Linked DNA regions of Homo sapiens: regions 2 and 3 are each linked to region 1. The links come from fine-mapping of genetic effects on gene expression. A gene starts in region 1. Each other region holds a variant in brackets. All regions are shown on one strand. Distances are from middle to middle. Region 1 holds the start of CGNL1 (cingulin like 1). Region 2 overlaps CGNL1 (cingulin like 1). Region 3 overlaps CGNL1 (cingulin like 1).

Evidence for each region. PIP is the estimated chance that this variant, and not a neighbour inherited with it, causes the effect.
Region 2: its variant is the best candidate, but not a certain one, in a credible set for the expression of CGNL1 in tibial nerve (GTEx, PIP 0.53).
Region 3: its variant is the best candidate, but not a certain one, in a credible set for the expression of CGNL1 in lung (TOPMed, PIP 0.62).

The regions. Positions count from the first base shown.
Region 1 is chr15:57,373,448-57,380,638 of GRCh38, reverse strand. CGNL1 (cingulin like 1) reads right to left here and starts at 4,134. Exons shown (of 19, transcript NM_032866.5): 1 at 4,072-4,134.
Region 2 is chr15:57,484,862-57,492,052 of GRCh38, reverse strand. All of the region lies in intron 8 of CGNL1 (cingulin like 1), which reads right to left. It also overlaps the pseudogene RIDAP3. Among named protein-coding and RNA genes, the nearest start is that of GCOM1, 100 kb to the left of the region's middle. RefSeq lists an enhancer at 5,402-6,601. The variant C/A (reference allele first, on the strand shown) is at 3,016.
Region 3 is chr15:57,535,106-57,542,296 of GRCh38, reverse strand. The region is part of intron 14 of CGNL1 (cingulin like 1); the gene reads right to left. Among named protein-coding and RNA genes, the nearest start is that of GCOM1, 53 kb to the left of the region's middle. RefSeq lists enhancers at 1,042-1,361, 1,502-1,841. The variant A/G (reference allele first, on the strand shown) is at 3,755.

The DNA.
Region 1 (7,191 bases):
TTTCCAAAATCAGTCATTTGGGGTACGGGCCTAATAGAATAAGCTTTAATGTAAACCCAAGTAAAGCATGTCTTATGCCTCCTGTGCCAATGAATTGAGGAGGCATCTACCCAGGCGAGGCTAGCCAGGTGCCCCACAGTACCCCACGGGCCACTGTGTTCCTCTTGATTAGAAAAGTTCCTAACTTATTGCAACCCAGGGTTTACATCCCCACCTGACTCAGGCCCCTTAAGGCAGGAACCTTATCCTGTTTACCAACAACTCTGGGTAATACATAGCTTTTGCTAGTAACAGGGGCTACTAACAGCTGGGCACAGTGGCTCATGCCTGTAATCGGAGCACTTTGGGAGGCCGAGGCAGGTGGATCACCTGAGGTCAGGAGTTCGAGACCAGCCTGGCCAACATGGTGAAACCCCATCTCTACTAAAAATACAAAAATAAGCGGGGTATGGTGGCGCATGCCTGTAATTCCAGCTACTCAGGAGGCTGAGGCAGGGAGGATTGCTTTAACCCGGGAGGCGGAGGTTGCAGTGAGCTGAGATCACATCACTGCACTCCAGCCTGGGTGACAGAGCAGAGTCTCAAATAACAAAAACAAAAAGACACCTTAGTGTGAATTTAAGATGAAGCACTATCTCCCCCAAGGATATTGGCTTGAGGGATGCAGGAGGGTGCATGAGGAGAGAAGTACAGGGGGCTGCAATCGGGACACGGGGGACACCAGGCTGAAAACACTAAGCCTTCCCTCCTCGGTAAAGGTCAGTCAACCCTGGTGCTATTTCCATCCCCCACCCCATTCCCTTTTTTTTTCTTTTTTCCTTTTCCATTTTCAGGATTTTCATGTCATAACTGGTTTCTTGATAACAGCAATGTCACATGCCTGAAAAAAGTAAGCACTTGGTCATTCAGAGAAAATTACCCAATTTTTGGTTTCCCCTTGAACTTTGTTTTCCTGCTCTGATGCCAACCTCTCAGCCATGCCACCGCCCTTTAGTGCCGAGATCAGAAGATGAAAAGAAAGGAAAAGCATAAAATCAGTTGGATATTTTTAAAAGGCCAATGGCATCTCTTAGATAAATGGGTTTCACGGGGAAAGAGAGTTAGGAGGCCATTAAATTTCTTTAACTCTCCCTCACCCATCAGCACAAGCAAATTAAACAAAGAAAAAAAGGAAGCCACCAGGGCAATAAATTCTTAACACAAACCCAAGGCCTTTTCTAGTTGCTGTATCCCCTTTCCCTAAATGAAAAAGTATCTCACTAACCCTTTCTTCATATTTTTCTTCACTTACTTTCTTCTAATCACTTTAGGATATTAGAGCTGCTACTCCAAAGTGAGAAATTGCAATAAATGTGCTTAGGCCCACATTTACATAAACTTTTCTTTTTGGGGGGGTAGAGTGTATTATTATATTCACAGTGTAACTATTGCTGTTCAGGGGTGACTTTTCAGACACCATGAATTCAACAGCATCCTCGAATAAGCATTTTTCTTTTCCCAATTGAGACAAGATTTGGAAGTTAACAAACCATTTAATAATATGGCTTCATTTTGTTGGCATGGTCTCACTCACTCACACACACACACACAAAAAAAACAGTAGGAAAACACTTTCCATATAGTCTTGCTCCCCAAAGGGTGATGATTCGGGTCAGGGGACACCCTGTAAGACAATGCGCTGCATGTAACCTCCATTTCAAGCCAAAGCCAAGACAATGAAGACGGCTCCCACAGGGTGCACACCTCCAGCAAGTGAATACAGTAGTAGCAGCAGAGCATGGTCGTGGAAGTTGGGGAAAAGCGAGAAAACCAAGTGGGCAAAATTATGTCATTTTTGTATTTTTCAAAATGAATGTTCTTTGGACTTACATTAGCAGCTAGAAATGAATGTAAATGTTCTTTCACTTCAGCAAGGCATTCTTGGAAGGATGTCATCCCACTGTTAATAAAAATACAGGCGGGGCACGGTGGCTCATGCCTGTAATCCCAGCACTTTGAGAGGCCGAGGTGGGCAGATCACCTGAGGTCAGGAGTTTGAGAACAGCCTGGACAACATGGCGAAACCCTGTCTCTACTAAAAATACAAAAAAGTAGCCGAGCATGGTAGCGGGTGCCTGTAATCCCAGCTACTTGGGAGGCTGAGGCAGGAGAATCATTTGAACCAGGGAGGCCGAGGCTGCCGTAAGCTGAGATTGCACCATTGCACTCCAGCCTGGGCGACAAGAGCAAAACTCTGTCTCAAAAAAAAAAAAAAAAAAAAAAAAAAAAAAAAAAACACATAGAGGGCCACCCCCTAAGAAAAACTTAAAACCACTGATTTGTGGTCAGGTAGCAACATCAGGGTGGAAATTTTAATGCAAACATCATATTTGGGGTACAAAAGTAAATTAACCAAGATCCCCGGAGACTATCACATTACTAAAAAGGGCAGTGAAAACACATTTTCTTGATAAAATATATGACCTAATTTAGCCAATATAAGCATGGTTACATTTTCCTTAGTCCTACTTCTCTATCATTTTTAAGACCATGTGACAGGTGTCTCAGGTGTCATCTCAGATGTGCCATGTTATACACTGTGTTCTGTCTGCAGGGCTTCATCATACTTCCAGAATAAGTTTAATCTACAAAAATGGACTTATGTTAACACAAATATCAACCACAAAACCTTAAGGATGTTGTTAGCTTTGGCTTTTTGAAGGAAAATTCTCCACATTTATGCAACTCCATTATCTACGTGGGGGAGTCTCCGGAGGGTCTCCAAAAGCTGACCAAACCCTAAAGTATTTTTTCTCCTTTTAATCTGAAATCATTCCCGAATATGACAAGTCAAATTATCACTTGGTTTTCCCTGAATAGGACAACCCTGTATTATAACCTTGACCCTGACAAGGACTGCTCGGTTCTAATGCCTACACTCCCACCTCCTTGGCAGAAAGTGCCCTGGCAGTATTGACTGTAAACAGAGAGGTAGAAACAAAGGGATCTTCAGTAAAGGCACCATCTACTGTCTAAAGTTGGAAAGCACCAATCAACAGGTTCTTCAGGTGGAGAGGTGGATTAGGGAAGAGCTATGAGGACCTGAGATGAGTTCTAGATCAGGACTGATCTTGAGCCGTCCGAAGAGTGGCTGGTGGGAGCAACTCTCAAAGCAGAGGTTTTCAAACTTGCCTGCACATTAGAATCACCTGCGGCGTCTTAAAAATTCCATTGTCCAGGCTGCAACCCAGGCAAGCCGAATCCAGATCTCTGGGAGTGGGACACAGGCACCAGTATTTTTTAAAACTCTCCAGATGTGGGGCCAAGTTTGAGAACCAATGCCCGCAAAAGCATTCCCAGCGAGCTTTGAGCAACGTTTTGAGCGGCATAAGCAGAGTCGGGAGGGCAGCGGCCTTAGGGTGAAGAACACACAAAGCAAATATACAAAGTTTCAAAAATCCTGTGTAACTAACTCCAACATGACAGCCAAGTACCTGTCTAGAGGCCAAACAGTGATGCAACTTGGAAAAGTCCCGGGGAGAGCTAGAATGTGTGCTCCGAGTGAGGCGGGGGCTCTCTCGGGGATGACCTCCCTGGGCGGCGCAGTGGTCTGGAGGATCGGGGAGAGAAAGGTCACACGCCCCTTTCTTTCCAGGGGATGGTCCGGCCGAGCACGCCGAGGACTTGTGTACGACAGGATAGGTCAGAAACTGCTTCGTGTGAGTCTCTCCCAGCTGTCACTAGAGCCGGAGGGTCCAGGCAGGGGTGCGAAGGCAGAAAGTCCCTCTTCACTAAAGGGAGGTTCTGCAGGGCCTCCTCCCTCCCACCCCGCCCCGAAGCGGGTTCCCCAGGGATCGCCCGCATCTGTTCTGCGCCTGCCCTCGGCGGGGCGCGGCGCGGGAGTCCGGGTCGCATCTTCGAGCCCCAGGACACGCGCGGCGCGGGTCACCGAGAGTGGACGCGCGGACTGAGCACAGTGCACCTGGCTGAGCCCGAACCCCTGGGGGTCCCGCCGCCCTGGGCGGCCCCTAGCACCCCGAAACCCGGCTGCCGGCGCACACCCCGCCCCGCTCCAGCCCGGAGCTCACTCACCGCCGCCGCCGCCTCCTCCCGCGTCCAGCTCCCGCCGCAGCCAGCAGAGCCCGGCCGGAGTGCAAGGGCCGCGGCGCCGCCGGGAGGCCGAGCGAGCCCGCGCCCCGCCCCGCAGTCGCCGCCCGCCCTCCTGGGAGGAGGGGCAGGGGCTGGCCGGGGGCCTGGACCCGCCGGGGCTGCCGGCGGGCCCAACCCTCCCTTCAATCCGCCCGCGGCCCGTCGGGACGAACCTACCCAGGAACCCCCGCACCACCCGCCCTCGGCTCCGCTGGGCCCGGGGCTGCGCTTAGACCTCACCCCTTCCCGGAGCCGTTCGTCCTTCCACCTCCCCTCCGCCGTCACCGGGCATTTTTCTTCTCCCAGCCTCGGCCTCTCCAAATTCCTGGCCTGCAGGAAGCCCTCCCTATTTCGCGCTCTCGACTGCGCCGAGCTCAGTTTACCCCTTTCCCTTCCTTTCCCTGCTTAGCCTTTTTCCCCCTCACTGTCAGAAACTTAAGGGATAGCGCTCTTCTGCCACCGCAAACCCACACCTATTTATTGAGCACCTACTGTGTCTAGACACTGGTGGGGAGGTTATCCCACTTGCGCGGTAACAAGAAATGTCTGTCTCTGTTGGAGAAACAGTAAAGTGAGGCGCCTCGTAAGGTCACACAGCTGGCGGTAGTAGGGCTGGGATTCGAATACAGTTTTTAGGTCCTTGTTTAGACCCACCCCACGATAAACTGCGGCACGCCTCTCGCTAGCTGTGAGAACTTGGGCAAAATGTTATCAGTTCTAAACCCCAGTTCACTCATCCGTAAAATGAAAAGCTGGATACTTCACCAGCTATGAGGATTCCCTGAGAAAACAACAACCTGTACTTTTTTTTTTTTTTTTTTTTTTTGGAGATGGAGTCTTGCTGTTTTGCCCAGGCTGGAGTGCAGTAGCGCGATCTCGGCTCATTGCCTCTGCCTCCCGGGTTCAAGCGATTCTCGTGCCTCAGCCTCCCGAGTAGCTGGGACTACAGGTGGCCACCACTACGCGCGGCTAATTTTTGTGTTTTTAGTAGAGACGGGGTTTCACCACGTTGGTCAGGCTGGTCTCGAACTCCTGACCTTAAGTAATCTACCCGCCTCGGCCTCCCAAAGTGCTGGGATTACAGATGTGAGCCACTGCGCCCTGCCCAACCTGTACTTAATACATGTTTGCTGACATATTGAATGAAATAGACCCTTGAAAACTTAACAATTCAAAACAATATAAAAGGACTTGAAAAAGTAATAGGTTGGTGCAAAAGTAATTGCAGTTTTGCTATTACTTTCAATGGGAAAAGCCACAGTTACTTTTGCTCCGACCTAATAATAGTGATTCATTGCCAGGAAAGAAAGAAAAAAAAAAAAAGATGCTACTTATCCCAAGTGGGCAGCATGGTCAAGGGAGTCTTTTTGGAGGAAGCGGTATTGCACTATTCCAGAGTTAGCAGGTCTAGGTTGGGGAAGACAGCCAAGGTGATGGGGTGTGTGAACAGTGCCCAGAGGGTGGACCAGCTTTCCTGAGCAGAGGCTGCCTGGGGCAGGACACACATGCTAGAAAATGGGATGAGGCATACTAGAAAGGTGGATGGGGTCAGAGGGTGGAAAAGGCATCAAATGCCAAAGTGAGGGGGCTCAAGGCAACCAAACAGTACTTGGACACCTCAAAATGACTAGAATGGAACCTGCATGCAATAGAGGGCACCTAAATGGCCCTGGGAACCAGATGGGGGAGACCCATGGCCTAGGAACCAGCAGAGTCATGGGGTAGATGGGGAGTTGCAGCAGGGAGGGACAGGAAAGAATTTTCCAACTGGGTGCAGTGGCTTATGCCTGTAATCCCAACACTTTGGGAGGCCAAGGCAGTGGATCACCTGAGCACAGGAATTCAAGACCAGCCTGGGCAACATGGCGAAAACTGTCTCTACCAAAAAAAAAAGAAAAAGAAAAAGAAAAAAAGCGCATACACACACACACACACACACACACACACACACACACACACACACACACACACAAATTAGCCAGGCATGGTAGCATGTGCCTGTAGTTCCAGCTACTCAGGAGGCTGAGGTGGGAGGATCAACTGATCCTGGGAGGTTGAGGTTGCAGTGAGCTGTGACTGCCCCAGTGGACTCCAGCCTGGGCAACAGAATGAAATTGTCTCAAAAAAAGAAAGAAAAGAAAAGAAAGAGAGAAAGGAGAGAGGGAGGGAGGGAGGGAGAGAAGGAAGGAAGGGAGGGAGGGAAGGAAGGAAGGAAGGAACTAATGAAGGAAGGAAGGAGAGAGAGAAGGGGAAGGGAAGGAAAAGCAGAAGGTAAGGAAAAGGGGAAGGGAAGAAAAAGGGGAAGGGAAGGAAAAAGGGAAGGGAAGGGAAGGAAACGGGGAAGGGAGGGAAAAGGAAGGGAAGGAAAAAGGGAAGGGAAGAAAAAGAGAAAGGAGGGAGGGAGGGAAGGCAGGAGAAGGGGAAGGGAAGGAGAAGGGGAAGGGAAGCACAGGGAAGGAAAAGGGGAAGGGAAGGGAAAAGGGAAGGGAAGGGAAGGGAAAAGGGAAGGGAAGGGCTCTTGTTTGGAAGACCAGATGTCTTGGTGACCAGATGTGTGCAATGAGGGAGTGGAACTGGCAAAGGCAAAGCTGAGGCTTCCAGGCTGGGTGCCTTGGAGCATCAGAAATAGGAACAATATGGAAAGAGGCTGCTTTTCAGGAGAGCTCCTGAAGGTTCCATGGAGCATGAAGTAATGGTGGAACTTTTCAGTGGAAATGCCCCAGCAGGCAGCTGGGAAGTGGAGGAGTGTCTCTGGGCAGCATCCATGTGGAGGGTGAGGGGAGAGTGAGGACCAGGAGCCAGGAAAGGAGAGTGCAGTGCCTTCACTGAGGGTGGAGGAAGCAGAGGGCATCACCCAAGGGAGAAAGAGGAGGGTAACTGAGAGCTGTTGGGAAGAACCCAGGAGTCTTTGACGGAAGCCCAAGGGTGAGGGACTCCTGAAGGAGAGGGCAGTGCCGAATGTCACGAATCCACTTCTCACATGGGCCCTTCCAAGGATCTGTAGAGAGTGTGCACTCAGGAAATATTTGTTAACTGTCAAAAAAGCATTTCATCAGCAATTTC
Region 2 (7,191 bases), 110 kb before region 1:
CCTTAGTTTTTACCTAACGTCCTTTTCCAGCTCTTGATCCCATTCAGGATACCACATTACATTCAGTCATCATTGCTCCTCAGGCTCCTCTTGGCTGTGACAGCTCCTCAGACTTTCCCTGGTTTTGATGACCGTAACAGTTTCAGGAGTTACATATACTGGGCCAGGTATGTTTGCAGGAAGGAGGAGGAGGAGGGGAGTTGGTCCCAGTACTATTTGCATCTTTCTTGGGATGAACATATTTTTAAAGCACTTTTCTGACACATTCTCATTGCAAAACTTATGCTGTTCTCTAAAGTAGAGAGAGTAGGCATTTCTTTCTCTTCCTAAATTATTTGGAACTCTTCTATAACGGAGATTCATCTGTTCTTCCTACATCATGGGCATCATTATCCCGTTACTATTCTGCCTCTTAGCTACAATGTGAGCATCTTCGAGTACAGGGACTCAAAGCAAAAAGTGGTACATGTAGTGGATTCAGGAAACATATGTTCTAGGGCTCATTCTTTCATTGTATCAGCTAACAAACATGTGAGTGCGTCTTGTGTGCCAGAAGCTGTGCATAAAGATGAATGAAGAGCTCACAGCCTTGCAGGGCAGACAAGAGAGGAAGTTAACTGCAGTGCCAGTGGCAGAACAGAGATGCAACTGGTGCCACGGAGAAAGCAGTGGCACTGTGGGAAGGAGGCTGCTTGAGGATGACTTCACAGAAGAGGCACCAAACTGGGTGTTAGAATATTCCCCCAGGTAGGTTTTTCTAAACGAAAAATTATCTATAGAAAAGCTTTAGATTATAGAAAAACTGCTAAAATAATACAAAATTCCCTTTCATCCCACACTCGGCTTCCCCTGTTACTGCATCTTACACGAACATGGTACATGTGTCATAATGAATGAACTAATCCTGATCTATTATTATTAACCAAAGTCCATACTTTATTCAGCTTTCCTTAGTTTTTACCTAACATCCTTTTCTGACTCTTGATCCCACTCAGGATACTCCATCACATTCGGTCATCATAGCTCCTCAGGCTCCTCTTGGCTGTGACGGCTCCTCAGACTCCCTGGTTTTGATGACTGTAACAGTTTGAGGAGTACTGCGCAAGGTATATTTGCAGGATGTTCCTCAATTGGAATTTGTCTGATGTTTGGGGTAGAAAGACCATGAAGGTAAAGTGTCATTTTCAGCATATCATATCAAGGGTAGATACTATCAATGTGATTGATGCTGAAATTGATCACGTGGCTGACGTAATGTTTATCAGGTTTCTCTACTGACTCCCCAGTCCACCAGAAAAAGTGACTCTTTTCTCCCCCACTTCATCCTGTACACTCTGGAAGGAATTCACTATGTGCAGCCCAACTTCAAGAATGGGGTGTGAGCCCCTACCTACTTGAAGGCAATATATCTAAATAAATTATTTGGAACTCTTCCAGAAGGTAGAGTCCTCTATTATTCCCCATTTATGTATTCATTTACTTGTTACATCAGTGTGAACACCATGAGCATTTATTTTATTTTGGGGTCATAATCCAATACTACCTTATTTTGTGACTTTGGCCACCGGCAGCTTCTGTATTTCGTTCCTGTGTCCCTGTGCCATACCTCATCAATGTGAGTGCACACGCACGCGTGCGTGCGTGTGTGTGTGTGTTTGGAGCACTTCCTTACTTTCTGGCACTGCTAGGTAGGTTTTTATAATGTGGTTTCTAAACATCAAAGCCTGCCCACGTTAACATCATCTTCAAATGCATCAACGTCATAGAACTTTAATGCCAGAGAGAGCCAGAGGTCATAAATCCAGTATCCCCATTTAATATAAGATAAAGCAAGGTTGGAGCAGTTGCCTGAGGTTACACAGCTTTTTAATAGCAGAGTAACACAGCCACTATGAGAATTCCTGATTTTTATTGCTTATTTTCATTTTTTTTCACTATTTCAAGTAACTACTGTTGTCCATGTGTAAAAGTCCAGTCTACAGTAGAGAAATTGTGTCTGTCACGAAATCTCTCCAGGTGACCAAGTTACCATCAGTAAGGCTGCACACAAAGCAGGGTTGAAAATATGCTTCCCCAACCTCCAGACATCCAGAGAAAACGCTACTGTTTTTATTTTTCTAGTAACAGCTTAATTTTCCTCACAATCTCTCTAATTTCTCTCACAACCTCTCATCTACCTACAATGGCAGTAATCCTAACTTGAACTTAATAGTTAGTAGTATCTCAGTCACTTCTGGTCTAAACAGTCTCTTTTGAGCAGATGCTTTAATATCCAAGCTTCAGCACCAAAACTAATGTCTGGGAAACCACTTGAATGGTAGGGAGCCTGGAAAATAAAACTTAAGAGGAACAGAATAGTGCTAAGACAATTCAATGAGGCAAGAATCGTCTCTTCAACCAACAGTGATGGGACAACTAATATCTACATGCAAAAGAATAAAATAGACTCCTACCTCATACTATGTTCAAAATTTAATTCAAAATGAGTCATAGACTTAAATGTAAGAGCTAAAACTATTAAATTCTTAGAAAAAGAGTAAAGCTTAAATCTGCATGTCTATTTTCTATCCATTAGAAAAATATTATCTATATAAAGTTTTGGTCCATTTTCTATTTCTTTACCCCTACCATTCAAATTTAAATATTTTAATTTTAAACTAGTAAAAGCAGAATTACCAGAATCACATACCTGACATGATAACTAAATATATGACATCACTCAATTTATTGGAATTAGGTATGCTCTTGATTATTTCTCAGGAACAACAACTCATCTTTCCTACATGTTATTTCCCTGTTATTTGAGTAACTATGTAATGAGTATCTCTTTCCTACATTCAGTGATATGGGTGTGCATAAGTGTAATTTGTAACATCAGTAACTGGATTCACCATCTAACCTTCAATTCATGTTTAATTCTATTATATAGTATTTCCATAACTTTGGATACTTTAGTCAAACTTACACTTTTCATCAATTATAAAAATCAAGATGTTAATTAAGATGTTATATCAA[C/A]TGTGACAATGAAGACGTTAAAAATTCCGGACTAGACAGCACTGGGCCCACTTATAGACAGGCTGTTGTGAGAGGTCCTTGAACAGCTACTGCTTCAATTTCAACCTGGCCTCCTTTGGGTAAAGCAGCAACATGGTAAGCAGCTCTAGTAGAAAAACCACTCTTAAAATACTGTTTGTAGATTACATTGACAGCCCGGAAGTCATTTGTGTCAGCTAGCCAAACAGTTGTTTTTGCCACATTAGTGAAGTCACAGCCTGCAGCTTTCAAAATATCACCCATGTTCTTAAGGGCCTGTTTAGCTTCTTCTGTTACCCACTCTTGGCACAAGCTGTGCACTCGAAAGGTTCATGCCTAGCTCTCCTGAAATGTAAAGGATCCCGTCAACTAATGCAGCTTGACTGAAGGGACCAGTGTACCCTTGGGCTTTCTCAGTGTTGATCACCTTTATGATCAAGGATGACATGGCTAAGTCTTCTCTCTTGCACCCCCTTCAGTAGAAGCAGTCCCTACACCAGTTCTGCTCACTTCTCACTCGACTGCAGAAGAAGAGAAGGTCTTCATGACCTTGGATGAGGAAATGGTTTCTTAGATACAACACAAGTACCAACAGAAAAAAGAGTAAACTGGACATCATGAAAATTAAAAATCTTTGCGCTTCAAAGGATAGCATTTAAAAAGTGAAAAGACAATCTGAAGAAGGGGAGAAAATTTTGCAAATTAAATATGTACTAAGAGACTGATATCCAGAATATATAAAGAACCATTACAACTCAGTAATAAAAAGACAACCCAATTTTAAAATAGGCAGAGAATCTGAACAGATAGCTCTCCAAAGAAGACATACAAACGGCCAATAAGCACATGAAAAGATACTTGATATCATTAGTTATCAGAGAAATGCAAATCAAAGCCACGATGAAATACCATTTCACACCCACGAAGATGGCTATCATAAAAAAGGCAGATAATAACAAGTGTGGGAGAGGATGTGGAGAAATGAAGACCCTCAGGCATTACTAGGGGAATGAGAAATGGTTCTGTCACTTTGGAAAACATTTTGGGAATTCCTCAGTTATTTTATGACCCAGCAACTCTACTCCCAGGTATACACGCCAAAGAAATGAAAACGTCCGTCCATGCAAAACCTTGTACCCTCTGTATACTCGAAAACTATATCCAGAGACTGTAGAATATTGGTGACTCTCTTTGAGAGAGGTAATCTAAAGGTTTTTTTCTCCCCACTTAGCCTATCTGGCAGCATTTGAACTTTTACAGCAACTCTGTTTCTCAGATCTGTACATTAAGAGAAGTAAAAAACCAGTAAAGGCAAAGTTCTCAATAACAGCACAATCTACAAAGCTAGCAACTCATCACAATTCTAATCACTTGGTTCTGTATAAATATCTGCCTCAACATGGATCTTTTTAAAATATAAAATAACCTGAACAAAAGGAAAATCTGAGTATATAGATTCATTTGGTAACAACCAATGACACTTATATTATTACCAATATCAGAGAATGCCAACCCTTAAGAATTCCTCAAAATGCTTTTGAGAAAAATATGTATCCTAACCCAGTATGTCAGTACTGGCCAAATGGTCCCACTAAGTATCACTTTTGCCCAGAAAAACAGCAATAAACCAATCCTCCTCTTTTACCTTTTTTTGACTCTGTATACCTGAAAATAAGTAATGTTGGCTGAAGTCAAAATAAGCTTTAAAAAAAAAGTTGAATAAGCTCAAGAAAAGAAAGAAAAAGTTGTTCTTTGCAACTCATTTACCATCTTGGAAAAACCCATCTCCCAAGGAGAAGTACTCTTGTTCTTCATAATATGAATTTGCAAATATTCATCTCTTCCCTCCATCAAAATGCACACATACAATAAACTGTCTACTCCTAGTCTTTCTAGTTGCTGGGCAATTAGAGTTTAGTGTGGTTGCACTGGTAATAAAGGTATTTTAAGTTTGTACACTTAGAAGCTTCATTTGCATCAGGAAATAGTTGAACTGGGCTGGGAAAACTAGCAGCAAAGAAGTAGATAATCTACATAATACCTCAAGCATGGCTGGTAGGGCCAGGTCTACAATTATTGTGACATCTGTAAGAAGTTCTAAAACACCACTCCCAATGGAAATGTAAAACAAGGACAGAATGCAAACAGCCTCCCCCTCAGGAGCATGCAACTATTGCAAGCAGCTGTTGGGCCCAACCAAAATCAGTAGCTTCAGCCTAGCCTTTCTCTTGTGCCAGATACCCCTCTTTGGGTGTCCCACAGATGCCTCAAACTCAACACGGTCAGATTCAACATGCACAAAATGGAAGTCCTCATCCCACTTACCACTCCAAGACATGGACCTCCTCTGTTCCTTCTCAATGCCTCCAATATTCACCAGTCACCTAACGTAAAAGCTGAAGGTCACCCTTGACAAGCTGTTCTCACTCATTCTCTCCAATCAATCCACAGCTGTGAGGAGGGACTTCAGTTAAAAGGCTAAAATTTTGGGAATAAGAGAGAGGAAGACTGGACGGACTCATGTGAGTGACAGAATGGACCAGATTTGGTGATAAGAACAGTTTATAACTCTTGCAGAAGCGCCCAGTATCTGTCTGGCTTTCCAACTGTTTCTCTCTTTCTCGCTGATTTATTTGACCCCCTCTTCCTTTCCCCCCACGACCTCTTCCCTGACTCTTTGCAGTGATATCATTCCCATTTCCACAAAGAGAAACAAAGTCATGTGGCCCTAAAGTTTGGTTAACATTTTCTGACAGATGACCTAACACAGAAGAAGCAGGGAAGGTTGACTGGGACCAAATTCCTTGACCACATCTATTAGCTGATCCCTGAAAGAAGTGAAGTTTCAGGCCTCAGCATGGTGAGCCTGCCCCTGCCCTGGAGCACCAGTAAGGCAGCTGATTCCACAGGTCACCACCTCAGCCTGCCTGAGTCAGCCCGGGCCCTGCTCCTGACTCACCCTCACTTCTGATTCCAGACCCCTGACTCAGCTACTCACACATTCCTGACTTCCTGGCCCTTGACTGGTTTGCTGACTTACCTTGGCAGACCTTTGAATTTCTCTAGGGGCCAATGCTAGACTATTAGGAGAGGTTAGTGAGACTGGGCACCAGAAGAAAGAAATGGCACGTGGCTAAACTCCTTTTAAATCAGCATCTGGAGAGCTGTGCTGCTGCCATCAAAGAATGGCATACAGGACATTCTATGTACGTCTATCTGAAAAGATCCTCCAAATGTATTGTGAGAGAGGAAAAAGGTGGTGTCAAAAGTATGATCCAAAATATATTTTCTTCTACTCTATACTCTTATGCATTGTTCAATTTAATTTAAAGCAAGCTTTTTCTATCATTTGTTTTTACTAAAGCAACTACAAAATAAAAAATTCCACACAATTACAATTTGAATGGGAAAAAGCCTCTGTGGCAAATACTATGACACTTCACATATCCTCCACCACTTACTTTTAACATGAAAATATAATTAGATTTGTAAACCACCAAAAAGGATGTATTCCTATTTTTTGTATAACTCAGGCTGTGAATAAAGATAACTTGTCCAACTAGTAACAATATTTCTATTGCCAAAGGAAAGAAAAATCATTTATTTTTATCCTTCAGGTTGATTCATATTTACTATTTTTGAAATCTCTTTCTAGCAAAATATACAATCTTTTCAAGAATATATACCAAGATAAACCATATCCTGAGCCATAAAACAAACCTCAACAAATGTAAAAGGACTGAAATCATACAGACTGGTTTTCTAACCAAAATGGACTCGAACTAGACAACAGGCAAACACCCAAGCACTTAGAAATTAAACAACACACTTCTAAGTAATCCATGGGTCAAAGAGCAAGCCTCAAGAAAATTTTGTTTTAAACACACACTGACCTGAATGGAAATTAAAATAAAATATATGGCATTAAATGTTGATACTAGAAAAAAGGAAGTCTGAATTCAATAATCGAAGCTCCTACCTCAAGAATCTGGAAAAGGAAGAGCAATATAAACCCAAAGCAAGCAGAAGGAAAGAAATAATAAAGAACAGAAATCAATGAAACTGAAAACATAAAAAAAATAGAAAAAAAAAAACCCAATGAAACGAGAAACTGATTCTTTTAAAAGAATGAGTTCATATCCTTTGCAGGGACATGGA
Region 3 (7,191 bases), 160 kb before region 1:
ACGTGGCTAAGAGGTACACACACAGCCCCAGACACCAGGGCCTGGAGAGCATCTGACACAGGCTTACTTGGCCTGGCCTCAAGTTGAATTTCGCCACCTGTACAAGCACCCCAGTGAGTAAAAGATAAGCTCACCCCTTCCTCACTGTCCCCCATGGAGAGCAAGAACTGGGGTCCCAGGAATGGCCAGAGGAGACATCCCACATTGGGCCAGGCTTGCATTTGCTCCCTGGCTCCCCTTGTCCTGACCGAGGTGTGTCACACAGCATGATGTCACTGGCCCAGAGTGGGCAACGGGGAAGGGGGCTAAATGATGCTGGTGGGACAGGCAGGGTTGGGACACAAAGGCCTCCAACACCACAGGGGGAAGCTGGGCCTCTGCCCCTAGGTGAGGGGGTACCAGGTGGTCCAAAGAAAATGCTCACATTTTAAAATTCCTAACTGGCAGGCATCTAAATCATGGAGGTTCAGAATGTTCAGCAGAGGAAACTGAGGCCTACGGCAGCGGTTATGCAAGTAACCTCAGGAGCAGGGCTAGAGACAGGCTGAGCCCCTGCACTGCCCATTACTTCATGGCTCTGTCTCTGGACCATCTAAGTGAAAAGGATTCCAATAGGCCTAGAGTTCAAATGCAGCTGTAGCATAAACATCCGGGCACAGAAGGGCAGTCCAGCCTCCTTAGGGCATCTTGCATAGAGAAGGGAAAAATGCCAGCAGTGGCCAGGACCAGCAGGCAGGGCACGTCCACCCAACTCAGGCCCGCTCCCACTCTGCTGGGCCCCAGGGCCCTCACGAATCACACACTGCAAAGAGGGCACCAGAACAATTGCTGTTACTGTTACCCCAGCACAAAGTGCAAGGGGAATGAATGCAGGCTCACGGCCCTGCTCCCAAGGTGGTTTCTGAACCAGCCACTGACACCTCACACATGGAGGTCAGCAGAACAGCTGGGCCACGGGACTGAGGACAGACGTGCCTCCCAGGGGCAGCCGTTCTGTTCATGTGCCCAGGGCAGGGCCCAGCACTTCACTGAGGACATGGTTAAATTTCCACTGCAATGGGAAACAATTACAGAGAAAAACAGCAGTGGCCTAACTTGTCCTGCTGGCTCTGTCTGTCCCTCACCTGTGACCTTGTTGATCTAACTTCTGGGATACAGGCTCCTAAGCAAGGAACTTGATTGAATGAGACACGCTGTAAGGGCCCCCGAGCTGGCCAATGATACAATAAAAGCACAACCTGGTGCCTCCTCTACCCTTCAGGGTACTGTGTGGCACCCTTCTGAGGAAGCCAGAGGCGCCTGCCTCCATCCTTAGGCAGAGCAGCCACCCCGTCTCTCAACCATTAGGAGTTTCCCCTGGGGAAAACCCACATTGTCATAATGAGAGCAAGCATGTGTCTGCGAGTGCACACGCTTGTGTGCTGGGCAAGGGTAGTCTCAGAACGATAGGATGGGTTTGTTCGCTGTTCAAACGACATGATGTGTCTTATGCAGGACATTGTGACAAAGAGACCCAGAAAGTGCCCGCTCTCCATATAGCCTAGTGGGGGACAAATGAACGAGCCCTGCATAAGAGGTCAGTGTCACTATGACAGGAAAGGACAGTGTGCTGGGGTGGGTGCACTGGGTGACTGCCCAGATTCAGAGGGCCAGCAAAAGCTTCCAGGACACAGACAGTAAGCTGAAACCTAAATGAGATCAGGGATAGACAGGGTAGAAAAAAGGGTAATATGGTTTGCCTGAGTCCCCACCCAAATCTCATCTTAAATTGTAGTTCCCACAATCCCCAGTGTCATGGGAGGGACCCAGTGGGAGGTAACTGAATCACGGGGGCGGGTCTTTCCCATGCTGTTCTTGTGACAGTGAATAATTCTCATGAGATCTGATGGCTTTATAAAGGGAAATTCCCCTGCACATGGTCTCTTTTGCCTGCCGCCATGTAAGACATGACTGTGCTTCTCATTCACCTTCAGCCATGATCATAAGGCCTCCCCAGCTATGCTGAACTGTGAGTCAACTAAACATTTATAAATTGCCCAGTCTCAGGTATGTCTTTATTAGCAGCATGAGAACAGGCTAATACAATGGGCAGGGTAGGGAATGCAGCTTTCAAAACCGGAAGGGGGCAGACCACCAGTAACACAGAGTAGGAGGTAAGAAAGAGAAGGGCAGTGTTGGAAGGAATTAGCCATATGAGGGAGGTGAGGGGGCAGGTTAAGCAATCGATGGATTGGGTGGAGAGGAAGACAGAGAGTAGTCACACAGGACCCAAAATCATACTGTGACAGCTGCTCACAGATTTATTGTGCTTAGGAAAGCAAGTCCTGCGGATTTGAATAGTATTATCTCATTTACTCCTGGCCACCACCAATGAGGTAGGCAGTGTTAACATCCCCATCTGTGCTTAGATTCCTCCTGGTGATGCATGTGGGGCCAACTGGGCGATGCCGGTGGAAGCCACAGAACAGGTGAGCCCACCAAGGAGCAATATATAAAGAATAAGGAGGATCTGCAGCTGTGCCCTGGGGATCCCCTCCAACCCCCCATGTCAGGGGAGGCAGGGAGAATCCAGGATCTATCCCAAAAGGCAAGAAGGGCAAGGACTGCCGGTAAAGCACACAGGCTGGACAAGAACCAAGTTTGCTTCTGGAAGGGTCTGCAGAGAGGTGAGCCTGACTGCAAAGCTCAGAGGAGGCGCTGGAGGTGAAGAGGTGGGAATAGACACCACACTTCTCCTCTGGAATCCAGCAGCGACTAAGACAGCAGCTATGACCCAGGGCTGGAGGGGGCACGAGGGTGTGCAAGAAATGCCCACACCTATTGTTAGGTGTCAATGAGAAGCCACAGAGGAGAGAAAAGTCACAACCAGTGGACATCGAGAAGGGAGTGTCACAGGAGAGCAGCCACCCAGCAAGTGGAGGGACAGGATCCAGCCCTGTCTTGGGGTCAGAATGTGGGTGGGGAGAGGAAGAGGATCCTCCAGGGCTTGGTGGAAGGCAGGAGCCTGTAGCTCAAAGGGAAGGTAGAGGCAAGAAAGGGACGGAAGGTAGATTATTTTCCGAAAAGTGAAGGGATAAAGAAAAACTGAAGGCTTGTAGAGAGACAAAGAAATCTAGTTGCTGTGGAGTGTGCGCCTGAAAAATACCAGAAGACAATAAACGGCCAGCAGAGCAGAGGCAGGCATCGCTCTGCAGCTGTGCTCCCGGCCAGGAGACCCAGAGGGGAAACACCAAGAATCAAGAGCCCCTCAAGCTGGGCGCTGGGCGGGAACTCTCCGAGGCAGATGTTATCACCCTGAGTTTCCAGGTGGGAGGTCCAGAAACAGCTTCTGAGTCAGAGTTAGGTGGAAGCAGCTTTGGGATTCCAACCTAGGTTTTCTGACAAAAACTCATACACTCTTTTTTCCCCTCCCCGTTGTGTCTTCGCAAACCTGTAGGACCTAGGACTCTCAATAAAGGAAGAAGACCCACAAGGAGAGTTTAGACCGGGACTGTGGAGCCCAGAAGGAGAACGTGTCTATGGTGGAGTGAGGCAGAGTGCAGAGAGCGCATGGAGGGATTCCAGGATGGCCAAGTGGTCACGCAGCCCTGGGCCCAGCCTGGGGGTTCAGGACAAATCCTGCCACATAAAGCAGCAGCCACTGGCCACAGTCTTGCACCCTCAGTGCCAATGTCTGAAAAATCTGGATCCCACCAGGAAACAGACTTCCCTGTGCAGAGCAGCACTTAGCATGGCAGCATCCCCAAGGGTCCCC[A/G]CAGGTTCAAGACCTCCCTGGAGGGCCCCTGGAGAGCCCCAGGATAATGGTGACTCTCCAAAGGGGGGCAAAAAAAGGAATTATTTATCCCCCACCATAGCCCCTTAAAAGATGGCTATTAAAATGGAAATGTAAAATAAATCAGAGTGAAGAACAGGAAGGAATAAATGTGTAGCCATAAAACTTAACAGTTACTGTGACCTGAGCAGGCAGTCCATTTCCTTCAGTCTTTGCAAACCCAGGCTTTTGGCAAACATAATAGGCTTCCTTTTGTTCTTCAAAGGACAGCCTGACATGAAATTCTAAAGTAAATCCACCATGTGGAGCCTTATACAAGAAATACTATGTGGTATTATGGACAATGCCCCAAGAAGGATGGGTTTCAACATAAACCCAGAAGTATCCTATGTGTCCCTGCTGTTAGCTGTCCTCAGTGCAGTGATCCCAGGACTAGGCCCCTTGACTTGGGAATATCGTAAATCAAATTCTTACCCTGAGCCCACACTGGCACCTGCCCTGGGGCGGGGGGTGGCGGGGAGGAGGGAAAAACCTATGGCTTGGCTGAGCCAGCCTCCTGGACCAGAGAAGAGTAAACTCAAGGCTGGGAAAGTATTTCTTTATATAAGCTTAGTGCTTTCTATGTTGTTTACCCTTCAACTACATTAAATAGCACAAACAAAAACTTTCCAGTCAAATTAAAAACAGAACAGGAGCTGAAGGCAAAAGTATATCACAGCTGGATTGAAAGAATGCTAAGCCCTGAGCATTTTGATCAGAAATCACAGTATCAGATTCCAGTGGGTTTTATGTCAGAGATACCCATGACCTGAGCCAGCTCTCAGAATTGTAAGTAGCTGCCTTTTGGGTTAATGGAAAGCCAGAGCTATTTGTGATGGCCAATAACAATACTGAACCCCATCACCTGTGTTTATCATTGGGCTGTAAAGAGGTCGGCAAGCCCACACTCCTGGCTGGCATTAAAAATAATAACCACAAAAAAGGAAAATTGTTATTAATCAACTGTACACACTGGGTTTTTGAGCAGCTGATACAATAAAAGGCAGTTCTGAGATTAGGAGCATTTCAATTAAAAAAAAAAAGAAGAAGAAAACCCCCCTCTGATCTTTCACTCACAACTGCAAAGACGACGGTCCCATTTAGCAGGGGTGGCACCCCTGATGCTGACTGAGGAGCAGTTCCCGAAAGTGACTGTAGGAGCCCACAACTCTATCACTGGCATTTAATCCTGCAGTTGCCGAGGCAACAAGGCAGCCTTGCTCAGTCCCTGGAGAGACCATGAAGCCACCCAAAGCTCGAGTTGGTATTTTTCCTGCCTGCCAGCTGCCTGGGCTTGATGAGTCATCTCTCCACTGGGCTGGGTCATCATGGTCTCCATAGCCAAGAGAACGCCTTCCCATGTAGGCCCAGCTCTGCTGTGAAGCATTTGCAGCAGTGCTTATCGAGCCAGCACAACAGCCTATTGGCCTTTAATTTAAAGCATATGAAGCCGGACCTCTCTTTGGCTATTTGAATCCTGCACTCATAAAGAATCAGGAGAGGATCAGCTGAACTTAACTCCTCACCCATTTTAAGAAACACCACTTTTAACTTGGGAATGGAGACCCAAATGCATTTGAAGGAGTGGTCTTTAAGACCATGACATAGTCTCATTCAGGGACGATGGGAATAGGCAAGAGGCTTTGGAGTCAAACTGTGACTCCACCTCCTACAAACTGTGTGACCCTATGTAGTCACTTCACCTTGAAAGCCCTGAAAACAACAAGAAAGTGAGTGAGGCACCCAGCACAGTGCCTAGCACTTAGGGAATCATTGGTAAGGATGGCAATTGTCATAAATGGAAACATGGTTTTTGGAGGACGGAAAGGAAAAAGGATTACTCTGGATTTAAACAGACCAAACGCCAGCAACTTCAACTTCTTTCAACTTATAAGCCAATCAGAAACCTTTCTGTATATGATGGGACTATACTTGGGTGAGAAAACAGATACTCCTTACTTCTATTTCATAAAGAAGATATCATTTTATCAACTCCAAATCCATCCCTTCTCCTTCATAGCAGTCAGACTTGAAAACAAAGTCCAAACATCCAAGAGGTTTGAAAAACGTTTCTCTCTCAATTAGGATTTCCTGAATCCATCACTCTGAATAATATTGTCCTGAGCATGTAAAGGAAGCCCTTAGAAAGGCTGTGATATGGTTTGGCTGTGTCCTCACCCAAATCTCATCTTGAATTATAGCTCCCATAATCCCCACGTGTTGTGGGAGGGACCCAGTGGGAGGTAACTGAATCACGGGGGTAGGTTTTTCCTGTGCTGTTCTCATAATAGTGAATAAGTCTCATGAGATCTAATGGTTTTATAAAGGGCAGTTCCCCTACACACACTCTTTTGCCTGCCGCCATGTAAGACATGCCTTTGCTCCTCCTTTGCCTTCTGCCATGATTGTGAGGCCTCCCCAGCCATGCTGAACTGTGAGTCCATTAAACCTCTTTCCTCTATAAATTATCCAGTCTCAGGTATGTCCTTATAGCAGTGTGAGAACGAACTAATACAGGCTGGGAACTTATAAACAACATGGCCAGCATTTAGTGAGTGCCAAATGTATGCATAAGAGAAAGAAAGAATGGAGGCATGGAAAGGGTCAAATACACCATCTTACACAGCCTTCCTTGTCCTCTGCCCTGGTAACAGCACAGTTGAGGCCTCCTCTCAGTCGCCCCTTCTCCAGTCCTCACCCCCACCCCTGGCGCATGAGTCTTCTAGAACACAGTGTATGCTTCACTATTGTGCTCAATCGCCTTCGATGGCTGCCCACTGCCTTCACAATAGAGCCATTCAACACCCTCAGTCTGCCTCTTCAAACTTATCTCCTTTCATTTCCTATGGAAACTGGAAATCTGATTGACCCACACTCATCCATTCATCCATTCATTGCTCCTCAAAATGCTGTATAGGTCCCTACCTCCCAGTCTTTGTTCACACCATTCCTTCTATCTAGAATCCCATTCCCAATCCCCTTGGTTTATTCACGTCTTACCCTTTCTTTAGAGCTGACCCCAGGTCCCCACCCTCTTTCCAGTAATTCTTCCACACTCACTCTTGCAACAATGGTCTTTCCCTCATTAGCTGCTTGAATCTTTTACTTGGCATTTAGTATCCACTGTTTTCTATTGTTAGTTATCAATTTTTTAGGTCTGACCCATCTCCTCAAACAAACTGTAGCAACTCAAGGTCAGGGACCATTTCTGGTCCTCTTGGAGCTTTACTGCAATGCCATGCACACAGCAGGTATTCATCATATTTTGCAGGCACGGGTAGATAGAGCACTGCCTTGGAAATTGAGACCTAAGCCCAGCTCTGCAGTCAATTGCCTGCATGACTGTGGTCAAATCACCAGGTGACTCTGGGCCTCAAATC